Linked DNA regions of Homo sapiens. The protein of the gene in region 3 purifies or fractionates together with the protein of the main gene of each other region. This does not show direct contact. Each region holds a gene or a part of one and is shown on either strand. Other genes may lie near its edges. The genes, in order: MAPKAP1, TSPAN15, IGSF3 and PRKAR2B.

Evidence for each region.
Region 1: the proteins of IGSF3 (region 3) and MAPKAP1 fractionate together in Homo sapiens (co-fractionation; one large-scale study listed by BioGRID). This does not show direct contact.
Region 2: the proteins of IGSF3 (region 3) and TSPAN15 purify together in Homo sapiens (co-immunoprecipitation; one large-scale study listed by IntAct). This does not show direct contact.
Region 4: the proteins of IGSF3 (region 3) and PRKAR2B fractionate together in Homo sapiens (co-fractionation; one large-scale study listed by BioGRID). This does not show direct contact.

Annotation. Positions count from the first base shown.
Region 1 is NC_000009.12:125,667,380-125,673,614, forward strand, and holds part of MAPKAP1 (target of rapamycin complex 2 subunit MAPKAP1), read right to left. Parts: intron 5,265-6,235; 5' UTR 5,196-5,264; coding exon 4,937-5,195; intron 2,529-4,936; coding exon 2,439-2,528; intron 1-2,438. UniProt on the Homo sapiens protein: Component of the mechanistic target of rapamycin complex 2 (mTORC2), which transduces signals from growth factors to pathways involved in proliferation, cytoskeletal organization, lipogenesis and anabolic output.
Region 2 is NC_000010.11:69,497,244-69,503,478, forward strand, and holds part of TSPAN15 (tetraspanin-15), read left to right. Parts: intron 1-965; coding exon of another isoform or gene 966-1,036; coding exon 1,037-1,153; intron 1,154-6,235. UniProt on the Homo sapiens protein: Part of TspanC8 subgroup, composed of 6 members that interact with the transmembrane metalloprotease ADAM10.
Region 3 is NC_000001.11:116,590,102-116,596,336, reverse strand, and holds part of IGSF3 (immunoglobulin superfamily member 3 isoform 2 precursor), read left to right. Parts: intron 1-595; exon of another isoform or gene 596-1,004; intron 1,005-1,268; exon of another isoform or gene 1,269-1,353; intron 1,354-3,026; exon of another isoform or gene 3,027-3,186; intron 3,187-6,235.
Region 4 is NC_000007.14:107,049,772-107,056,006, reverse strand, and holds part of PRKAR2B (cAMP-dependent protein kinase type II-beta regulatory subunit), read right to left. Parts: intron 1-6,235. UniProt on the Homo sapiens protein: Regulatory subunit of the cAMP-dependent protein kinases involved in cAMP signaling in cells. Type II regulatory chains mediate membrane association by binding to anchoring proteins, including the MAP2 kinase.

The DNA.
Region 1 (6,235 bases), on a different chromosome or scaffold from region 3:
CGCGATTTTAGCTCCCTGCAACCTCTGCCTCCCAGGTTCAAGCAATTCTCATGCCTCCGCCTCCTGAGTAGCTAGAATTACAGGCGCACACCACCATGCCCAGCTAATTTATATTTTTAGTTGAGACAGGGTTTCGCCATGTTGGCCAGGCTGGTCTTAAAACTCCTGACCTCAAGTGATCTGCCTGCCTCCTGGCTAATTTTTTGTATTTTTAGTAGAAATGGGGTTTCACTATGTTGGCCAGGCTGGCCTCAAACTCCTGGCCTCAACTGATCTGCCACCTTGGCCTCCAAAAGTGTTGGGATTACAGGTGTGAGCCACAGTGCCTGGCCTCACTGTGCGTTTTATTTATAATTTTTTAAGCTATGGAAGTGAAGAACGCAAATAAAGGGTGGCTGGAGAGACAGAGGAGCTTAAATAAACTTGCTCTGTATTCACTGATCAAGAAGAGATTAATAAGAACTGCTTTAAGATATATAAAAAATTTGAAAAAAGTGAATAAGATAAGTGATATAAAGTATTTTCAGTTTGTATTAAATACAACAAAGAGAAACATTAACTTGATCAACAGAAGGGGCTAGCCTCGTGAGATTTTGAAAGTATTCAGAGTAAAACTAGAGAGAAATTCAAGAACTACTGCATTCAAGCAAGTCAGAATGAGATATAAGTAAGAAAAACAAGTAATTGGGACTTCTGGTTCTACACAGTCATCACTTAGTAGCAGTCATGAAGAAAATCATACCTGCTAAGGATACTTGAGTTTATAACCATAGTATGAGAAATCAAGAAGCACTTTACAGAGTGATTTAGCGCAGAGAGACTGGCCTTTATATGCAGGCAGAGCTGGACACAAAACATCTCATTATCACACTTCCCTCCATGTTGGGTAACTTTGGCAAGTTCATCAAATCCCTGAGCCTTTGTCTTATCTGTAAACAATAGCAACGATACCTACACCTTGCAAGATCACTGCAATAGAGGTAATGCATGTAAAGTACCTAGTAGAGCACGAGGTAGAGGCTGCTATTAGTATAATAAACCTTAATATTATTAGACTTATAATTATTGTGTAACAATGGAGCCAATCCACAAATATTTATTAGGCATCTATTACATGCCGATATGATATTGGGAGGTGCTGGGAGGATACAGAAGACAGACTGCAGATATTTCTTTTAAAGGAGAAGAAAAAGAGAAAGTCTAGGAAACATGATATAACCACTATAAAATATTTTAATAGCATTTTATTTCTGAAATTGTTTTTCTCCCCAAGTCTTTTCTTCTTGCTGAGACTGAAGCTTTGAAAGTATATAATATGGCCAGCCTTTATACACATACTATATGAAAATATACAGCAAATGCTAATAATACCAGCAACATAATGGTTTTTACACTAAGGGAAAAGAATTTGCATATATGCAAAAAAGACTGTTACTAGGCCCACTAATGGGGCAAGGAAAAGTCTAGGTTGGAACTGCCAAGAGAAATCTGTAACCTGGAAACTCATCCAAAATATCACAGGGGCTGGGCGCAGTGGCTCACGCCTATAATCCCAGCACTTTGGGAAGCCAAGGCAGGTGGATCACTTGAGGCCAGGAGTTCGAGAACAGCCTGGCATGGTGAAACTCCATCTCTACTAAAAATACAAAACTTAGCCAGGCATGGTGGTGTGCACCTGTAGTCCCAACTACTTGGGAGGCTGAGGCAGGAGAATTGCTTGAACCAGGGAGGCGGAGGCTGCAGTGAGCCGAGATGGCACCACTGCACTCCAGCCTGGGTGACACAGCAAGACTCCGTCTCAAAAAAAAAAAAAAAAATCGGCTGGGCACAGTGGCTCATGCCTGTAATCCCAGCACCTCAGGAGGCCACGGTGGGTGGATTACTGGAGGTCAGGAGTTCAAGACCAGCCTGGCCAACATGGTGAAATCCCATCTCTACTAAAAATACAAAATTAGCCAGGTGTGGTGGCATGCGCCTGTAATCCCAGCTACTGAGGACGTTGAGGCAGGAGAATCGCTTGAACCGGGGAGGCAGAGGCTGCAGTGAGCCAAGACCGTGCCATTGCACTCCGGCCTGGGCAAAAAGAGTGAAACACTATCTCAAAAAAAATAATAATAATAAAAATCAAATCATAGGGTACTCCTTGGCCTATATTTTTTTAAAAAATCAGAAAAAAATACTGACATGACAGCTTGTAAAAAATGTCCCCTGCACACATCAATCCCTGTGACCCAGAGTGAAGGGTGGCCAAAAAGCCAAGAACTAAAGAGCATATAGCTTCAGAGGGTCAAGGCACACAAGAGAAAGAGCTCAAAGCTCAAAACACTAGAGGTATCTAAGTCCAGAGGATTTAAAAGGATGAATTAAAAATAAAAGTTCTTATATAATAAACTAAATATATAAATCTCAAATTAAGAATTAAAATCATTTCCATTTACCTGATTGCTTAGAATTTCTTTCTTTCCACTGAATATTTTTGCATTTGATCTGGTTTTGTCTCTCTTTTCGGAGTCGTTCTAATCTTTGAGCTTGAAAAGAAATATTATAACTGTAAGTTTGTCAATGAAAGTTTACCATAAACAAAGACATAATTAACTACCTTTACATGAATAAAGATGTTTTATATTGCATATGTAGAGAAAAAGTCATAAAATTTTAAAGGTGGCACCCCTGAAAAGCAAATACCAACAAAAACATGAAAATATTCTTGATTTATAATTGAAATTAGAGGATATAAAACACTAATAGAGATCATAAAGATAGTATTAACATGGAAGAGAATAATAAAATGTGAAAACTTCTGTGATTAATATGACATTTCATTATATAAATCATTAATAACGGTCTTAAAGGAATTTTAATGCACAAATGAACTGAAGTGAATATTACATTACAGGAATAAAATTACTGTTATGAATTACTCTACCCATTTCAAAAATTAAAGATAAATGAACTCAGACTAGACTATTAAAGTTTTAAATATAAAATCCTTTATCTAAAAATCATGAAAATTATAAAATGTCAAAGCTATATAAATTAGCATAGCTTTTCTTCAGTGGGCTGAAACAGTTTATAGGTAGTAAAATAAATGATTTGTATCTTTGTAACATTAGTCAAATCTTAAAAAGAACAATTTTTCTTTTACAAAATTTTAAGATATGCTGCATGGATTAAAAAGTAAATTCTTTGGTCACTAAGACAACCTACAATCTCAATTAATTATTAGCATCTAAGTGCTACCTAAAGAAATTCCAACAAGAGTCACCTAAAATTATGCATTTGTGATTATATTGCCACTGGCTGATCAACCTTCAAAAATCAGTGAACTGATCCTTTAGAGAAATACCACCCAGCATGCACTTAACAACTGCCGCATACAGAGACCACAATAAAAAAGAAAGTCACAATTGATGCCATCTCTTGAAATCAGTTTTCTCTTGCTAATCTTCAGCTTCCTATCCCAGCATTTTGCTAATAGAAAATAAATACATCTCTTTTTCCGCCTCTTTCAAGATAGGAAATTATACACTTCTGCCTTAGCATTGTGGTAGGGAAACACTGAAAATAATCTTACCAGAAATTTAAACTATGCTGGGAAGAGCATTCTGACAATGTCACTATATCTAACCAACACTGAAGAAAACTACATTCAATTGCAATTAATAAATGTGAAGGGTACAGCCAAAGTAATATAATCATAAAGCTCTCAATTTAGCAGCATTCTCCCACTGAAATACATTCAACCTGTCATATAAGATATCATCTCAATAACCTGCAAGGAAGTCAGTTTCAACTAGAGAACTGAAAATCAATGGTTCTAAATTATATTCAAACCTTCACTCAAATCCTATTTTGACAAAAGTTCCTTTAGATACTGGGAAATGCTATTAATTATTTTCATCATGAGAGCAAATTATTCTTATGTCACAGATACTGAATTCTGAACCAAAACTTGAATGTGCCTTTCACAGTAAATTGTATCCAGCTCTACCTCCAATATTCCTTTATGTGTGTTTTACATTTGGACCATGAAAATAAATATGTAAGTATTTTCAGTGTTCTACTATATCTCCTTGCCATTACCTTTCCTGGGAGTTAGCAGGTTACTGCTAATTTGAAGATTATATTTTCTGATTATCTAAAAAAAATTACCTCCTAGAATACCTGTCATATTAGAACTACAATATGTATTCTAAATAATTTGTCTAAGTAAAAAAAAAAGTCCTTGGTTCATCACATTCCCCTTGAAACAAGGCCACCAAAAAAATATAAGTGGGAAAATGGGCAATAAGCTTTTAAAGCTAATGACTAAATACGTGTATACCAAAGTTGAGTGTTTTCAAGCCAGAAAAATCAAAAGGTGATCAATTTAAGAAAATAAAGGCGAAGTATCAAAAACAGGGGCCCCTTTTCTAATCTCACACCCTATGTATAGAATCCTACTAAAACCAGCCCTAACAAATACTCAGGTGTCTCCTCCCATTTCCCCACTCCCCCACAATTCCTCCAGGGGCAAGAAGTGCCTGCTCTCTTTGGGTGGTCACCTCTCTGTATTAAATGCTCTTTATTATGTCAACCTGAAATCTGTCTCCGGGTAGTCTACCTACTGGGACTAATGTTGCTGTGTGAAGACACTCAAAGCCAGTCCACTTGCCTTTCTACACAATGACTTGTTAGAAATGTCCAACATGTCTCTCCTAACCAACTTTTTCACTATCCCCCTTCTGTCTACTTCTAATAATATTCTAGAGGCCCTCTCCATTCGCAGTCGCAGAGATGGAGATGTTGCTCAGACTCACTCTTAGTCTGACATATGCATGTTCCTATTAATACCCGGAAACATCCCCCATTAAGCCTATTCCAATATTATGCATTATTCCATAAGACTGTTTACTGATTTAAAGCTCAGAAGACATGACTAGAACACAATGTTTACCTGTGTTTGAGCGTCTTCTAATACCAAAGTCCCAACTTGAGGTAATATCGACTGACTGGGCATATACATAGCCCTGAGTCTCACCATTGCTTCCCTGAATTTCTGACCCACTGTCTCCAGGCATTGAAGGAGGATGAATCTTCTCTAGGTCAACATCATGATCAATGAGAACCATCTCACACATTCCCGTGTCATCACTGGTCACATGTGACTGTCGAATATGAGCTAGAATGATAGTTGGATTGTCCAAGAAGGCCATCCTTTCTGTGGGCCAATTTCCTTAAAAGGCTATTTTCTCCTCTTCATATTGTTTCACGAGCTCACCTACCTAGAAACATGATGTACACAGCAAATATTTAAGAATAAGGCAGAAAATGACTGAATCATTTTTCAGACACATTCAGTGTAGTAAAATGCCACCTTGAAAATCAACATTTATCCCTGTTCTGTGGAGCTTAAAAGGATTTAGTCTAAGCTGAAAGGAAATCCTTATAAGCACTAGGGGCTGCAGCTCTAGTCAATGAGATCTCTATAGAATCAGAAAGGAAGGCTTGCACTCTTGCAAAACAAATCACAGCAACTCCTTACAAGTCAGGCCACTCGAAGCACATAACTACTGTTAAAACAATATATTTTCCTTTCTTTCTCCCTTCACTATCATGCAATCTTCTCATTACTTTATAAGGTCATGGGGGAACAAGTTGTATTTTCCTCAAATGATGTGCTAAAGTACAAAACTCTATTTCATCAGTTTACATTTCCCCTCCTGTCATATGATTGTGAAGTGTTTAAAAGGGCACAGACAATGCTTTCAGAGTTACTAGGGGTTTTATAAAAATGATGTACCACCAAATTAATGTTGCTCAATGAATATATTTTCCTGTCAAGATAGTATTGTGTTTTTGTTGTTGTTGTTGTTGTGTTTTTTCTGAGACAGGGTATCGCGCTTGTTGCCCAGGCTGGAGTGCAGTGGCGTGATCTTGGCTCACTGCAACCTCCACCTCCCAGGTTCAAGATTCTCCGGCCTCAGCCTCCCGCGTAGCTGGGATTACAGGGATGCGCCACCATGCCCAGCTAATTTTGTATTTTTAGTAGAAATGGGGTTTCTCCATGTTGGTCAGGCTGGTCTCAAACTCCCGACCTCAGTTGATCCGCCCGCCTTGGCCTCCCAAAGTGCTGTGATTACAGGCGTGAGCCACCATGCCTGGCCTGTGTTTTTAAAATAAAATTTATAATCAAAATTACCTACTATACAATCAACTTCTTATTTTAGAAACTTAATTATAAAAACTGCTTCCT
Region 2 (6,235 bases), on a different chromosome or scaffold from region 3:
GAAAGGTGTCTGGCTACCAGGACGTGTACTGCAGCCCTGGTTGAGCCCTCCAGTCCCAGCTCCCTGCTTCAGCTGGCTGGCAAAGCTTTGCATGGTCCAGCCTGTGCCGCCCTTTCATCCTCATGCTCTGCACTCTCTCTGTTCCAGGCTTGTTGGCCTCCGCACCTGCTGCTGAAATACAAGCTTGTTTCTGCGTGGGGCCTTTGCATGGGTCGTCTGGCTTCTTTCTGTTTCCATGTTTCAGATGAAATATCCTCTCTACAAAGAGCCCTTTCATGACCTGCCAACCTAGAGCTGCCCCTCCCCACTTTCCCCCTATTTCTCCATTTCCAGGTTGCACAGCACCTTTCCATCCAGTGCTCACTCTCTGTCTCTCCACTGGAATGTGTTCCACCTGAGCAAGGGCTGCCTTGCTTTTGCTCACCCTGTCTCTCCAGTGCCCAGGACAATGCCAGGCACATACCAGCCATCAGGAGGGTTACCAACTACTTCCTACAGGAGCAGGGAGGGGAGGCAGGGAGGGGCTCGGCTAAGGGGAGAGCTCCAGGCAGGTTGTGAGGTGTGGGTGCTCTCCTTGCTAAGGGCAGGGCCAGCTGAGCTGGACGGGGTGGCTCCTAGGGTGGGTGCGAAGGTTGGTTGAGGTGCAGGGACTTTCACAGAATCATGCTTGGTCTCTGGGACTTTAAGGGCCATCTTTTCCAGCCTAGCACCTGCATTTGGGGACACGAAGATGAAGAAAGTGGAGGCCAGTTGTCAAGGAAGGACCTTTCCTCCCAGTGCCTAGTCACTACCCTGATATCCCACCAAGAGGCAGCCCAGCCTTGGCTTCCATACCTCTCTAGTGACAGGGGGTTCACTACCCTCTAGGCAGCCATGCCACACTTTGACAGCTCTGACTTGAAAGTGTACAGCCTCTCCCTGCCCCAGGGTGACCCACATAATAAACTGCCTCCGTCTCCTGACAGGGCCCCTTCCTGTCGTCTGAGCAGGGCCTGGGCGATGACGGCAGCTCCTCTTTCCTGCTTGCTTCCCTCAGTTCAAGTGCTGTGGCGGGGAGGACTACCGAGATTGGAGCAAGAATCAGTACCACGACTGCAGTGCCCCTGGACCCCTGGCCTGTGGGGTGCCCTACACCTGCTGCATCAGGAACACGGTAGACACTGCTCCTGTGGGGACTGGGGGGCTGTCGGGGACCCCAGGTGGTATAAATGTTCTCTTTTCTCTCTTCCCAACTTGAAGATGGGTGGTGTGGGTGGATGGCAGGGAAGTAGGAGTTGGTGGCAGAGCGGAGGCTTTCCTGATTCTCAAGGGCTCCTGAAAGTGGAGCTTCTGGGGGTCGGGGGTAGGGAGACCATGTCTTTCTTAGTGGTGTTGGTTAAAATCTATTGAGCACCTACCTTGTGCAGGCCTGCTCTGGGCACTTTGGTGGTATTTACTCATTTAGTATTCACGACAACCCTGTGAGGTATGTACTGTTATTTTACCCACTTTACAGATGAGGAAATTGAGGCACTCAAAGGCTGGGTGTCTTGCCCAAGGTTGGCAGGGCTGGGATGAAGTGCAGGCAGCTGTTGCCTGAGCTACACTCTGGAGAACTGTGCAGGCCAGGTGAGGGCAGGAGGGAGAGGTGCCCAGGCCAGGGGAGCTTAGCGGGGGTAGCTGGCTCTGCAGCATTAGTGGAGGCAGGCAGGACCTGCACCTTGGGCATCTCCATTGGTCTTTGGCCTTGAGGTCCTGGTGATCATCAGCAGCAGAGTGCTTGGAAGGGGGTCTGGTGACGTAAATGCCATCCTCTTCCTCTCCCCAGCACGATCCTCTCGGGTCTGTCACCTTGGTCATTTGGGATGATGTCTTGTGTTGTCAGCGCTTAAGTGAAAGGCTTCATCAGTCCTTGTGTTTGACAAATGTGTCCAGAAACTGTTTCAGGATTGGAACGAGGTGGAGAGCTTTGCAATTACTCATGGCCCAGATAGTCATGGAAAGTTTTTCTCCTGACATTGCCACCATTCTGTGCCCACTGCTGGATTCTGTAAACTGAGCAGCTGCGGGTGGGGGCCTCGCCCATGAGTCAGAGAGCCAGTGCCAAGTGCACTAGCTCTAAAAAAGGCCGGGCCAGGAGGGAAGCTTTGTTTGGAAGTGTTAGCTGCCATTTTAGGGTAGTTCTCTGGGAAGTGGGGTGCTGAGGAGTAGCAGAGTTTCCAGAGAGGCCTGCGTGGGGTGATCCTGAACCTCATCACCCAGGGCAGCAGCATCTGAATACCTAAGCTGAGATGTGGAAGCCAAACTTGTATTCATTCATTCATTCATTCATTCAACAAATATTGGCTGAGAACCTACTCTATGCCAGACACATTTCCAGGTTCTGGGGGTGTAGCAAACAAAGTCTCTGCCCGCAAGGAGGTGACATCCTAGTGGAGAAAACTGACAAACAAAATAAGTAAAAGATAGAGGATCATAAATGCTGAGTAGAAAAAGAAAGTAGGGCATGGAGGATTGCAGTTTGGGATACTGAGAAAGGCGGGATCTGGGTGAAGCTCTGAAGAAAGTGAGGAAGGTGTCTGGGGGAGGGGCATTCCTGGCAGCAAGAACAGCTGTGCAAAGGCCCCAGGTGGGAATCACCCCAGGGCGTTTGAGAAATGCACAGAGTGGCTGGAGCAGAGGGAGCACAGCGGAGGATGGTAGGAGGTGGAGTCAGGGAGGTCATGGGTACCCCGAAGGCCACAGGCAGGACTGTGGGGCACCCTTGAGTGATGGACCATACAGGGCTGCATGGAAGAGGGGCACTCTGACTTGGTTTTACAAGAATCAGTCTGGCTGTTGTGAGGGACATGCTAGATGCAGGGATAGAGTTAGGGGCTGATATGCAGTGATCCAGGGGTCATAGGTCATCTTGTCCAGGAAGGTGCTCTTGGATCAACACCTGTGGAAGTGGGAGCCAGAAGCGGGATTGGGCAATGAAGGGAGTTGAGCAGTGATGCAGCCTCAGCTCAGTTCGGCTGGAGGCCTCAGCCACATCTATGAGGACAGCCCTTCAGAGTTGTCCCCTACTGGGGTGAGGGGGCCAGGCCTTCACACTCCCACCCACATTGACCAGGCATTGCATGAGTCCAGTGGTCCACCCAAGAAGGGACTTGCTGGCTCTGTTCAGCCAAGAACAGACTAATACAGCAAGAGGAAAGAGAGGGATTGATTGATGATAAGGAATTGGCTTGTGTAATTATGGAGGCGGGCAAGTCCCAAGATCTGCAGGGTGAGTCGGCAGGCTGGAGACCCAGGAGAGCTGAGGGTGGAGTTCCCATTCAAAGGCTGGTCAGGCTTCAAACCTAGGAAGAGCCAGCATTTCAGTTCAAGCCCGAAGGTAGCCAAGCAGGGAGAATTCTCTTATGGTCACTGAGGAGAGGGCAGTCTTTTGTTCTGTTCAGGCCTTCCCTGATCAGATGAGACCTCTCCCCCTTGGGCAGGGCCATCTGCTTTACTTAGTCTGCTGATTTAAACATTAGCCTCATGCAGAAACACCCCCACAGAGACACCCAGGATAATGTCTGGCCAAATATCTGGGTATCCCATGGCCTGGTCATGTTGACATATAAAATTAATGATCACATGAAGTAGTTATTGCAGGGGGCTGACACCTAAGGGCTCCCCACAGCATCCCTGCACCAGGGAGGGGAAGACAGATGCTTGGAGCTGGGTGGTGGTGGTGGTGGTGGAAGTGGCAAACCGTGGTGACATTCTGGCTGTATTTTGCAAGTAAGCCTACAGGATTTGCTCGCATAGCAGATGTGGGCGATGAATGAAAGAGAGAAATCAAGGAGGATACCCAGGTTTTGGTCTGAGCCACAGGAAAGACGGGGCTGCCACTGCCTGAGAGGGGAGGACTGCAAGGAGGCAGGCTGGGTGACCAGGAGCTCACCGTGGACGTGGGGGGTTTGAGAGCCTGTTCAGCATCCCATCAGGGGTGTCAAAGATGCGGTTGGATATAGGAGTCTGGAGTTCTGGGAACGACTAGGCAAGGGGTGTAAACACGGACATCATCTGCAGATAGGGTAGAATCTAAAGACAGCATCTGAATGAGAGCACTGAGGTAGGGAGGAGCCTTCCCCTGGCCGGGGTTATCTGACCCTGTGTTACACATGACCATTGAGTCTCCCTGTGCCACCACACCTGGATGATTTTCTCTAAATGTGAAACAGGGCGTTCGCTTCCTCCATAGAACTGGTTGATTTGTGTCCAGATCTATTTATTTTACACTGTACTATTCAACCTGGGATTTGAATGAGTACACGGGAAATATGTAGTGTAAAAAACTAAAATAGCATTAAAAATCAGGACTGTGGGAATTGTATTCTCAGATAGGAGGCCTAGATGATGGAGAAAAATATAAAATCCTGCTATCTAAGCCTCAGGACCTCATGGACTCACTGAAAAGGAGCTGAGCCTCGTGTCTGGTGGCTTGGAGCAGGGCTCCCCTACCTCCAGGCCATGAACCAGTACCGGTCAGTGGCTTGTTAGGAACCAGGTCGCACAACAGGAGGTGGGCAGAGGTTGAGGGAGCATTGCCACCTGAGCTACACCTCCTGTCACATCAGCAGCAGCATTAGAGTCGCATAGGAGTGTGAACCCTATTGTAAACTGTGCATGCAAGGGACCTAGGGTGCATGCTCCTTATGAGAATCAAACTAATGCCTGATGATCTGAGGTGGAATGGTTTCATCCCGACACCATCACCCCCCACCCCCCCGCACCCCATCCTGTGGAAAAATTATTTTCCTTGAAACCAGTCTCTGGTGCCAGAAAGGTTGGAGACCACTGGCTTAGAGTTTCCTGGCAACCAAAAGGAAAAGGGAGACATGGTCTGTTACATTGTTACTGTTCAGCAGAACATACCAGCAGAACATACCAGTTCTTCAGGGAAAGTAACCTTTTCCCTAACACTCAGCTTTAAAAGAAATGTCTTATATGAGCTTCCAATAGAGGATTTGAGCCATAGAAGTTCACATAGGGCTGTAAAATCTGGTTATACCAGGATATATCCCTCGGAGATGTTGGTGCAGAGGGCAGCGTGCTTCTACATTAAATGGCTCCAGACTGCTGTGCCTGCTGAGCTCTTGGGACCAATTTTCACGTACCTCCCCTCCCTTGTTGTTGGCTACCCCTTGGGGGCCTGTCGCGAAGGCCCCTCTCCCTGTCCCCATTAGCTGCTCAGTCTTTTCAGGGTGAGAGGATGCACACACAAACATTGCTGTGATCTTCTGGCTGCCCAGGAGTCCCCCTTCTGACTTCCTGTCCTGTGGCCCCGTGCAGGATGGAAGAGGCTACTGGACCCTGGTCTTGGGGCCTGTGAACTTCAGCAGAGCCTCTTGCAGAATATCGATTCTATGGTCAGGCAGGTAAACCCAGGCAGGCTTTACTTTTGGAAAGACTATGGATGCATCGTATCCCCTCACCCCTTGGTGAGGGGCTCTCCTGGCAGGGTGAGGTGAGTCCCCCCTGGGCCTGGAGAAGGGTTCTGGGCTCTGATGCCAGAGAGGCCTCTGCCAGTTGCCTGTGTGCTAAGAGACTCATCCCCCGAGGTCACCAGAGCTGGCCCAGTGAAGTCACTCTTGTCACCTCCCTACGTACCATGCAGCTTACCTATTTGTTATGTTCATTATCTCCCTTTCTACAGTGTAAGTTCCATGAAGGCAGGGACTTTGTCTTGTTGTTCTGTATTTCAAGTGACTAGAACTGGGATTGACATGCAATAGGTGCTCAGTTAATATTTGTTCAATGAACAAATGAATGAACCAATGAGATGGAAAGCACTCACTCCCATCATGTGCCCGTGCACCTGCTCTCCAGGCCTGACCCTCTCCATAGGGGTTGTGTTTATGGCCTGGAAGGGCCAAAAACACTGGCTGACTAATGCCCAGTGGGCACTGGGCATGGCTGGGACTGAGGCTACCTGGAGAACCAGCTAAACCGAGGGAGGTCGTCTTGCCTGCACATCAAGCCCTGACATTTAGAATGACCTAGATGACATCTGAGGCCCAACCCTCTCTCGGAAGGAGAGAAGACACCCTCCCTTTCCTTTGCAGGGGCTGGAATTGTGAACAAATCACGCCAGCCAGCATTCTTGTGCTCCTCCATGTGCCCAGCCCCGTGATAAGCACTTTATATGTGTATCTCACTTTATGTCCAAAACAGCCCTAGGAGGTGGGTTCTGTGATCATCACAACCTATTCATTCATTCATT
Region 3 (6,235 bases):
CTTCCATAGAAATGTCCCCTGCTACCCCCGTTTTAAAGAATATTGTGTTAAATATTCTTATTCCATCAGAATCAAATAGGAACCCAGGGACTGTTGACTCACTCATGCTGGTCTGTTTACCATCAGCCTTCCACTGCTGTGATATCATTTATCGCAGCAAGCTTCTTTGTGGTCTGTGCCCCAGACTCGTCCCTGCTGGAGCCACCTGCTGATCCTGCCCCCATATCAGTATTCATCAGAATCTCTGGTTGGATGGCACAGTTGACTTGTGGATCTGTTATTTGACCATTCCCTGTGTGTGCTTCCTGTTGCATATGCATATCCCCAACAGAATCTTCAAGGAATGCCATCACTGTCAACGTTGCCATTGATCTAGCTTAGTCTGATCCCCATTGATCACATAGTGTGACCCCTCAAGGGGTGCTTAGGCAAGACTTTCAGCCAGTTCACATGTTTGATTATTAGCTCTTAATCAGTTCTTTTCTCTTTTAATTGTGAAGCATAATTGCCTTGCTTCCTTCTGATTTTCTTTAGCTCAAAACACCCTCCAATTACATATCCTTAAATACAGAAGCAGTAAGGGAAATGTTAGCACTCATTTTCCAAATGTTTATGACAATATCTTGGTTTGGCTATTAAATATTGTACATTAAAATTGACAAAGCCATAAACAAGCTTCCATGAGGACAGCCTCTAGTGGTGGAAAGCCGACTTGTCAGAGGGTGTATTCTGCTGGGATTTTACTGATGGGCAGTCAGGATGAATATTTAATACCCTCTGGATGTTGCCAAATCGGTTTTCTTCTATTTCTTATTGCTGACCCGGCAGATTGGGATAGCAGAGGGCTTTTCTTTGACTTCCATGAGTCCAGAGCATGTGAACACTGGCTCTCCTTTCACATTCTGAGGGATGGCTGCCCCATCCCTCAGAGGACTGGCCTCTGCCTTCTTTCAGGGGAGTCTGGGGTTCTCCTTCTTCCATCCCAGGTGGCTTCTGCCTGTTGTCTGTGCCAAGATAGAATGGGTGTCAGTGCAAGAGCCCTAAGAGGAGAGCTCAGCCCCTCCCAGATCCCTCAGGCCTGTTGTCATGGTAACACCGGGGCACTTGTTATTGGCATCAAGGAGCCAGGGTCACTGCCCTACCTGCAGACAGGTAAGGCAGGGTAGGGCACATCTGGGTAACCTTCATTAGCTATTTCCACCTGCAGACTCTTGCTGCTTTCCCCTTGCCCCTCCCTCCCTGTCTCTCTGCATGCATTGAGCACCTACTAAGTGCCAGGTTGCCATGCTGGTGAGGCTGCTGAGATGGGTGTGTCACGTTCCTGCCTTGCGGGCTCTGTGGGAGGCAGCAGGCCTAGGGACAAAGGAGAGCAGAAAAGCGTTACAGGTGTGGAGGCAGAGCCAGCACAGGGCATGAACGGGGGCAGGGGGCGTGAGGAGGGAATGGGGTAGGGGTGAGGGTGGGAGGTTGGGAAGGAGGAGTGGAGCATTTCAGGCTCAGAGAAGAGTGTGAATAAATATAGTCACGGAGGGTGGGAGCAGCATGCTTATCTTGAGATGACTAAAGCATGGGGTCTGGGGAGGGTTCACCCCCAGGCAAGCTGGCAGGGATCAAGAAGTCCCTTTTGTACATGGGAGCATGGGGTGAGGGTGGGCATATGTAATAGCTAAAAGCAAGGACAGACCAGACGGCCTGGGTTTGAATTCCAGCTCTACCACTAAGCCAGCTGTGTGACCTTGGGCAAGTGTCTTTATAAAATTGGGAATAATATTTATTTCATAGGATTGGTGAGGACCAAATAGTTAATATTTATAAAGTGCTTAGAATAGTGCTGAGCACATAGGACCAGATGAAAGTTTGCTAAATAAATGAGAATATCCTAAACTCAGAAATTAGGACTTTAGCTCATACCCAGATCATATACTCCATTTTTGTAATAATTTATAATGTTCCCTTTACCCAGAAATGAAATTCATATACAATATAACATTCCTAATCATATCTTTAAAATTTGCTATATTGTCCTAGTTGTGGGATAAAGAAAGTTTTTTTTAAAAAAAGTAGTTCATAGTAAAATAATGAGTTTCAGTGCGTAAATGCTCAGGACAGCTATGCTAGGAGGCACAGTCACAGTCAACGCTGTCTCTAAATGCACACTGACAGTCACTGTATCAGACTTGGCACCATGAGCAGGACTGCCATCCTGACAGGGTTTCTGAAGTCCTGAGTAACTCTTGCTACAATTCTGAACAAAACAAAGGAAAATCCTCTCTTGACTGACCTGGCATATTTTAAAACCATGCAAAATAAAAGTATTGTGATTATAGTAAAACGAAAGTAGGTTCTAGGCCCAGAGGCATAATTTTTGCCCATATGAATGTCATTCGAAAGTCACACAGGACACGAGGCAGAGTTTTGTTGCATGGAGTTGTCCCAGATACAATTTTACATCTTTAATGGCTTTATTCCATTGAATATATACCCCTCCCCAAATCAATATGGCAACCAGAGACCTGCTTGCAATTAGCTGCCTTATTGAGAACTGCTGTCACGGGCTGTGGGGTGGGCAGCCGTGGGCAGTAGCATGCCCCATTTGCCATTTAGGGAAATCCCCTGGCTGTGGCTAGGCTGAGAGGGAGGGAGTGTCATATGCAGGCCAATTACAAGAGCCTGAGAAAGAGATCATTGAGGGCCCAAATAGGGAATGGTCATGTGGAGAGAGCAGGGAGCCAAGGGGTGTTAAGGACAGAGGGACTCAGGGGTAGTAACAGTTTGACTGGCAGGCGCCTGTGCCACTGGCTTCCCATGCAGCTCACCCTGCATTCTTTCCTTGTCTCTCATCTGACTTGCTTCTCTCCACTTGAAACATCTCCTGCCGCAGCCACTGGCCGCCTCTATCTCTAGCATTACTGTCTGTTGTCTTTAATAAAGAGCAGTGTCTTCCTCCCTCAGTGCCCATCTCTTTGCACGTGCCACTCTGGCTGCTGCTCACAGCACTGCACAGAAACCACCTTCTCCAGACTTACCGGCAACCACCTCAGCAGCACGGCTGTTGCTTCTCAAACTTGAATGTGCATCAGAATCAATTGGAGGGCTCATGAGACTGCAGGTTGCTGAGCCTTACTCGCAGTTTTTCTGACTTAGCAGGGGCTGGCAGATTCCCAGGTGATGCTGATCTGCAGATCCATGGCGTGCACCCTGAGGGCCACAGGTGGTCAGGATCAAGTACAAGCTGCAGGCCCCTTGCAGTGTGGCCGAAGCTTACCTTTCTAACCTCATCCACTACACCTGAGCACTTGCTCCTCCTTGAATAGAGTGCACAGGGTAGTTGTCATCTTTTTCCTCTTGTCCCCTCTCTCTGGCGTGCCCTTTGATTCTCCTTCTCTGCTTGTTTCTCAGGGCCTAGCTCAGGGGCCATATACCTTTTGAAATGTTCTCTTTTCTATCAAAATCAGAATTGCCCCTCCTTTTGAAAAGTAACCACATTTATTCAACCATTCATTGATTAGTTTAACAATGATTGGGTCAGAGTCCCTGCCCTGCATATGCTTAGAATTTTGTAAGAAAGAGAAGATTTTAAGAATTACCTTCGTTGTAAGGCAGCAGTAACACAGCTATAGTAGAGCGTAAGGGAATCCTTTATTGAAGAAATAAATGAGTTTTGAGTGAGAAGAGCACGCACAGAGTGGAATCCGAAGGGAGGGTAGGCTGGCTGAGAAAGCTGCTGCTGGTCTCCGCTGCGAAGTTCTTCCCTCTTCCTGATGTCTCACCTTGAAACCACCCTATCCTGGCCTGTAACAAACACAACAGCCTCTCCTACCATACAAAACACAGATCTTCCAAGTTTTAATCACAAGCCTGGGAAGGAAACTCTCCAGTTGCAGAAAGAAAGGGCCACTCCCTCAAAGCAGGGCCTGGCCTCTGGGGGCTGCTGTGAAGGCAGCTGCTGGCGTGAGCTGGAGCAACTCTCGGACCCTCTTCCTGTCTCTTGCTGGATTCTTTCTTCCTCCTGCCAATTCACTGTTGGGGGTTAACCAAGCCTCACTCTTTTCTTTCACGTCTGCATTTATGGCCTCTCAAAGCCCATTCACTCACACGGCCAAGTCCAGGGTTTCTCAGGCTTGAAGCTACTTGTGAATCACCTGGGGATCTTGTTAAAGTGCAGATTCTGACTTACTGGGTCTGGGGTGGGGCCTGAGAGTCTGCATTTCTAACAAGCTCCCAGTGCTGCTGGTCCGAGAACAGCACTTTGAGCAGGAAGATTGCCACTTATGCTTGACAACTCCCATTCTAAGTGTTGAACTTTGAACTTGGGACAAGGCACAGAAACCAAAAAGGAATGAGAATAGCTAAAATTCACTGGGTGTTTGTTATATCCCAGGTTCTGTGCTAAACTCTTTTTATAGACCATTGCTTTTAGTCTGCACAAAACTCCTAATGGAGATAGAGACATTGTTCTTATTTTGCAGATGAAAACACCTGTGGTCTCTAAGTGGGCAGGGCTCTCCTAGCTCTGTGGAGGAAGGTGGTGCACGCAAGCTGTACACCGCCCAGGGCAGGGCTCTGGCAGGACATGGGAGGGCTCCCTAATTATATGTGGAGATTCCAGTCTCCCCTGTGCCTCAGGAAAGGTCCTACCTGCCCTGGAGATGTGGGAGGAAATCCAGAGCATAGAATAGGAGCTGACCCCTTGCCCACCTGTCAGACGTGCACCAAATTTAAAAAATGCCTCTCTTTCAAGCTTCTCAACACTTCACAATATTTTGACATGGGAAGGAAAAAAAATGGAAATGCTTTGAAACATTTCTCTTCCTTGAATTCATGTTCTCAGACCATGTGACTGAATAGAAGTTTAGTCATAGGATTCCAGTTTAACATATGCAGTTACTATAGCAATTGAGGTTTCCTTAGTAACAGTTGCAAAAATAATCCGGCCCCAATTAATAATACATTTTAAAGCTCTTTCTACTCCATGCTGAACAACCCAGTTTTTTTGGCCAAGAACCAGATAATTCAGGTGGTGTCATTTGCACTGATATAGATATCATTTGCATGCGGTGAATTGGGTTGGAAAGGAATGAAAAGGGAGCCGGTTGTTTCAAGTATTATAGGAATCCAATCTGAAAAGTCGACTGGCAAGCGAATGCAAATCTAGTTTCCAGAGCTTGGGAGCTTAATGGTAAACCCTGTCCTGGATTCCTAGTGTGCCCTAGAGGACTTTCTGCATTTGAAGAAGGGAGAAGGCAGAAGATTGGACTTGCTAACAAAAAAGATGAACCCGGGAGGGTGGGGCCGTGGCACACAGGATTTCTCTCTAAGTGGTGCCTGGTGTGTTCTTGATGGCGTGAGAAGGTCTGTGGGTTTGTGAATTCAACAAGTCTTCCTGGAGAGAATGTCCGATTTACTGCGGGAGATGCTCCGCAGTGTTGCTCAGTCATGGCATTGGGAATTGGACTTTGCCACACCTTGGCTTGCTAAATCCTTCCATCCATTCAGAACATTTGTCTGTGTGTTACAGGGAGACCAAGTGGCAGTCTGTGGCTTTCACAAGTTTTGGTTCTGTGATGCATGGGACTCAATCAACCCTTGATGCTGCCAAACCAAGCTTAAGCCAGCTGGCAGGCCAGGGTCATGACCAGTGGGCTGGGTCCTGGGTCTGGATGCAGTTCCTGGGGTTGAGCTGGACTAAAGAGACAAGAGTCTGACCAGTAGAGTGCTGGAGCCTGGCCAGGCATCCCTGCCCTGCCCCTGCCCCTGCCCTCCACACAAGCTCGGTTGGAGGAGGCCTAGGTTGCTGTCCCTGGGTGGAATCTGCACCTTGCCCCTGCTTTCTTTCTCAGCTGGGAAGTGGTTTGGTCCCTGTGGCGGAAAAACTAAGTGTGAAGAGAGTGGTGGAGGTGGAACAATTCTTGTACTATTAGTTCCCTAAGAGGAACTTAGAATTGTTTTTTTGTTTTTTTTTTTTCATTTTTAGTAGCGGGAAAGGCTTGGGTAGGGGAATGCAGAGCCGAGGTTAATGATGATGGGGTGGGTGAGATCTCAAATCACCTTCCTAAGATGGATTTCATTAGACCTTGGCTTCTTGCCACTGGCAAGGTGAACATCGTCATTAATTAGCTGCTGGGGAGGCGCTCCACAGGCTGCCCTCTTGTCTGTTTTTGGAGCAGGACAGTGAGGAGAAGGGAGGATTGTAGTTGGCTTTGCCTTGTCCCGTGGTTTACTGTCTTCTCAGCCT
Region 4 (6,235 bases), on a different chromosome or scaffold from region 3:
TTCCTTACACCTTATACAAAAATTAATTCAAGATGGATTAAAGACTTAAATGTTAGACCTAAAACCATAAAAACCCTAGAAGAAAACCTAGGCAATACCATTCAGGACATAGGCATGGGCAAGGACTTCATGTCTAAAACACCAAAAGCAGTGGCAACAAAAGCCAAAATTGACAAATGAGATGTAATTAAACTAAAGAGCTTCTGCACAGCAAAAGAGAAACTACCATCAGAGTGAACAGGCAACCTACAGAATGGGAGAAAATTTTTGCAATCTACTCATCTGACAAAGGGCTAATATCCAGAATCTACAATGAACTCAAACAAATTTACAAGAAAAAATCAACCAACCCCATCAAAAAGGGGGCAAAGGATATAAACAGACACTTCTCAAAAGAAGACATTTATGCAGCCAAAAGACACATGAAAAAATGCTCATCATCACTGGCCATCAGAGAAATGCAAATCAAAACCACAATGAGATACCATCTCACACCAGTTAGAATGGCGATCATTAAAAAGTCAGGAAACAACAGGTGCTGGAGAGGATGTGGAGAAATAGGAACACTTTTACACTGTTGGTGGGACTGTAAGCTAGTTCAACCATTGTGGAAGTCAGTGTGGAGATTCCTCAGGGATCTAGAACTAGAAATACCATTTGACCCAGCCATCCCATTACTGGGTATATACCCAAAGGATTATAAAACACACTGCTATAAAGACACATGCACACATGTATTTATTGTGGCATTATTCACAATAGCAAAGACTTGGAACCAACCCAAATGTCCAACAATGATAGACTGGATTAAGAAAATGTGGCACATATACACCATGGAATACTATGCAGCCATAAAAAAGGATCAGTTCATGTCCTTTGCAGGGACATGGATGAAGCTGGAAACCATCATTCTCAGCAAACTATCACAAGGACAAAAAACCAAACACCGCATGTTCTCACTCATAGGTGGGAAATGAACAATGAGAACACATGGACACAGGAAGGGGAACATCACACACTGGGGCCTGTTGTGGGGTTGGGGGATGGGGGAGGGATGGCATTAGGAGATATACCTAATGTTAAATGAAGAGTTAATGGGTGTAGCACACCAACATGGCACATGTATACATATGTAACAAACCTGCACGTTGTGTACATGTACCCTAAAACTTAAAGTATAATAAAAAAAAGTCTATTTAAAATATTTACATGCCTAAGAAGTTTTCAATCATTTTACATTCATACACATTTACCATTAGACAGTGTTCAATATTTTAAAAAACATTTGCACACCTACTGTGAGCAAAGCACAACACATACAGGAAAGACTTAGAAAGAGAGGGTATATTCCTGCACATTCTTGCCTACCTAGACTGAGGACCCTTGACATCTGCAAAGTTGACTGATGGAGGCCATATTCATCCTACCATATTGATAGTATTAACGTCAAGGAGGGAAACTTGCAAAAATATTTGGTAGGGTAAAATATAAACTAAACCTTTGGGAAAAGAGTGAGATTTAGCAGAAAGACAGGGAGAGGGGAGTGAGAATTCAGGACCAAGAGAATGACTTAAGACAAGAATATTTGGCTATATCAATTTAGAATCATGTCATGTGCCGCTATATACCGTGGTTTTTGTTTGTTTTGTTGTTTTGTTTTGTTTTGAGATGGAGTCTCACTCTGTCAAGCAGTGCTGCGATCTCAGCTCACTGCAAGCTCTGCCTCTCGGGTTCACGCCATTCTCCTGCCTCAGCCTCCCGAGTAGCTGGGACTACAGGCAACTGCCACCACGCCAGGCTAATTTTTTTGTGTGTATTTTTAGTAGAGACGGGGTTTCACCAAGTTAGTCAGGATGGTCTCGATTTCCTGACCTCATGATTCGCCCGCCTCGGCCTCCCAAAGTGCTGGGATTACAGGCTGTGAGCCACCACACACGGCCTACTGTGTTTTATTTACTACTTAATGCATATTTACAAAAGAATTGCCTTTCTTTCATGTATTTTTACACTTATTTAATAGGTAATCCAAGCACATGCTAAACATTTTTCAAAAGTTACAAGAAAGCAAATAGTGAACGATCTCTCTCCTAACAAAATAACCTGAAATACTCTATGAAATTGCATTTCTTTTCAACTATTCTAAACTTTAGACTTTCTTCTAATTCTGACTGGTATTTCCATAATTTACTGATTCCTAACCAGAAAACTATAATACGATTCTCTTTGTCCCATCCACAAATGTTGCACCAAAAACATTACCACTATACAATTGGAATTCAAGGTATATACAGGAAAACAGGTTTTAAAAGAAAAAGCCTGGATTTTCCCCTTCAGGTAACGTAGTTTTACTTCCTTTTTATAAGATAGAATTTTCCTCTGTATTCTGCCAACTTCTGTTGAGTCAATTAACTTACCGAGTGACTGTCTTTTAAAAAAGACACACACACACACACACACACACACACACACACACACACACACTCTTTATAATCTAGAAGCTTGAATCAGGGAACCAAAATTGATCATGGCTACTTTATATATTACTAGAGTATCAATTTAAGTGGTATTGTTTACAGCTGTAGTCTCCAAAACGGGGTTCATGTATGCCAAAACAGTGTATAAGGCTATATGTTGGGATGTAGGAGAAAATTACAACTTGCTTAGAATTGCTTTTTACTTTCTCCTTTCAAAATTTATATTGTAGGAAGCTTTATCATACATATAAGTCAATATATTGTCACATGTATAAAATTTATCAACATATATTGGGGTGTACACTCAAATATATTTTGCTAATAAAGGTATATAATAAAATAAATTTAGAGAATTAAGCAGCTCAGTACATGAGGTGATTATTTCTAAAATAAATAAATGTAGGCTGGGTGTGGTGGCTCTTGCCTATAATCCCAGTATTTTGGGAGGCTGAGGCAGGTGGGATCACTTGAGGCCAGGAGTTCCAGACCAGCCTTGCCAACATGGAAAAACCTTGTCTCTACCAAAAATACAAAAATTAGGCAGACATGGTGGCACACACCTGTAATCCCAGCTACTCAGGAAGCTGAGGCAGGAGAATCACTTGAACCCAGAGGCAGAGGCTGCAGTGAGCCAAGATGGCACCACTGCACTCCAGCCTGGGCAACAGAGCAAGACTCTGTCAAAAACAAAATAAAATAAAATAAACAAATGTACTGAGTTTCTAAGGTACATGAAATGCTAATTTGGGTTGAATAGACAGAGAATGCAAATTGTAAAAGGGAGAGATCAATGCAGGGCTAGCCTGCAAACTTTTAGAGGGAAAAGTAGGTAGCTTATTTTTTGATATGTGCTTATTTTCAACCACGTTACTGCTAAAAGAATTACTGAAATGAAGTGTATAAACCGTGGTTGAAGAGGAAGACCCTGAAGTCAGATTACCAGGTTCAAACCTTGATTCCACCAATTACTCTGGGGAAGACTAAATCACATATGTGTAAAGCATCTGTTCAGATGACAATGTGTAAAGCACTGTTCCACATCTGATACATCAGTAGTCAAAAATGTTAATAATAACTAGTATTAAATAAAAAGGACACCATTTATTTATTTTTTTGAGACAGAGTATACCTCTGTTGCCCAAGCTGGAGTGCAGTGGCGCAATCTCGGCTCACTGCAACCTCCGTCTCCAGGGTTCAAGCGATTCTCCTGCTTCAGCCTCCCAAGCAGCTGGGATTAAGGCGCCCGCCACCACGCCCAGCTAATTTTTGTATTTTTAGTAGAGATGGGGTTTCACCATGTTGGCCAGGCTGGTGTCCTATTCCTGACCTCAGGTGATCCGCCCGCATCGGCCTCCCAGAGTGCTGGGAATTATAGACATGAGCCACCGTGCCCGGCCTAAAAGGACACCATTTAAAAGACATTAGTTTTCTATAATAATGAGAACGAAACAGCCGAATCATGTTTTAATTCAACATGACCTTTGAAAAAGATGCTCTTTGGGTGTAACTGAAATATATTAGAACAAATGGAACAAACGGCTTTTTTCCTTCTCTTTTTACCCCCCAAATTCCCCTCAACATCACTCCCATGGACTATTTTGTCTTGGAACAGCTAATGTAAATTAAACAATGTCATCCTTAGTCAAACAGATACAGGAATAACTGTATACAGTATATCTTCTTGGCTTCACTTTTATGTGGAACATGTGTTTACATTTTGACCTTTTGTCTTTTTTTTAATTAAGAAACATTTTTAAACAGCAGCAACTGGAAAGACTTTTTTTTTTAGTTTCCAAACATATTAAGCTACACATGGCAGAGCCTATTGCTGAAACATTTATAAATGTTACACCAACTGTTTATAGTTCTGATTTTCTTATTTGATTGTTTTGTTGTCATGTAAGCCATGACCTGAAAATTTTAGCTCAAATTCTTTCCATAAAATTACATAATGAAACCGTCTGAGTCATTTTGAATTTGTGAAGCACAAAATTCGCTCTCATAAAATAATGATAAGCATCATAGTGAGGTTTTTAGAGTAGGATTTTGTGACTGTCCCAACCACAACTAGATGATATAGATAAGACAGGAAGGACAAGAACAGGATCAAGAACACAGTAACAATTCATTCAATTCAGAAAAATCACTGCATTCTTGTTTCTTTTCCATTGTCTCTTCTTAAGCAAGTGATAGGAAAATATAGTCTAATATTAGATTTCACTTCATTGAAAAAGAATCAAAGAACAAAAAAACCTGGAAATTCTGAAGACAAAAGTACTTTTCTTTAGCCCATCCTTTTAAACCTTATCAATCAACTTGATGGAAGACAGAAAAAATTCATATGATGTAAGTTAATATAAATAGCGCACAAAATGTTGGCAACAGTTGTATGAACAAACTCAAATTTATAAGGCCAAAACCTACCAAATTTGGATAAGGAACTTCTCTGTCTCTCACCTGCCCCATCTATTAACAAAATTGATCATACATACTATCTATGAGGCCATCTCTGACAAAAGGATGGTGTCTTAAGTCTAGGCAGGGAGCAGTGGCTCACGCCTCTAATTCCAACACTTTCGGAAGCTGAGGCAAAAGGACTGCTTGAAGCCAGGAGTTCAAGACCAGCCTGGGCAAGAAAGGAAGACCCATCTCTACCAAAAAACAAACAAAAACAGAAAAAAATGAAGTCTAAAGAGAGTAAATGTAAGACGAATCATTTCTTTTTTCTTAAAATAAGAACTATCCTACCTTCCAAGTTTCACACATTGTTTCTAATAGGCCATCCCAGATCTCAGCACTTTCTGTGATTCTCCACACTTCTAAAGTAGACCCTGCAGTTAGTCACTTCAGTCTTCTTCACTGAATCTCTCACCTTAAAATATTCCATCATTCCCCAACCTCCACTGTAGGACTTTATTACTACTACTACTGACAAACGATTTTCTTAATGGGTCAAAAATAAACCCCAAATTGATGGATTCATAGGTCCCCTGTTTGTATTTGCACAACTGAAAAAGAAACACAATTGTTTTTCAACATAGCTGTTAACAAAATCTTGACGGCTGGAAATTTACTGGAATCCATGGAATGAGATTTGCAACAATAAAATAACCATTCAATATTCACTCCTGTTCTACCCAGACACAGCACATCAATTTATGTGCATCCACAAAAAAAAAAAAAAAAAAAAAAAAAAAAAGCTGGTAACTGTCTTATCTAAAATAATAGCTAAATGGTTTGGTTTTTGATAGAAAAATTAAAGTACTAATGCTTCAATTTCTGTTTAGGTGTTTCCATTGTATGTCTTCAAAGTGTAAGTTACTCAAGCAAGCCTTCACAACTGGTTTTACTTCTCTCTTGCTCTCTCCCTCCCCCTTTCCCTTCTGACTTCATTATCTTTCTCCCTCTACCACCCTTCTTCCAAAGCCCAAAGTAATAGATGGTAAGAGAAGGGGTTTTTTGGTTTCCCAATTTCAACCCCTAAAGCAATCCACCTACTATTACTAGTAAAATGAATAATGTTCTTAACTTCTGCTTTGAAAATCACAATCACTATCTCTAACTCAAAATAATTTTTATTATCTTTTCTGACACTATTGTTTTATGCTCATAACTAAAATAATGGCTTCAATATTTTAGCCATTGTCATGAATGATTTAATCCATTTCAGGAGGATTTAAAACCACCATGTAAATCTCTAATAGCCAAAAACTATAAAGTCTCATTAATTACAAAATCCTGGAGCTCTTAGCTACAAATTA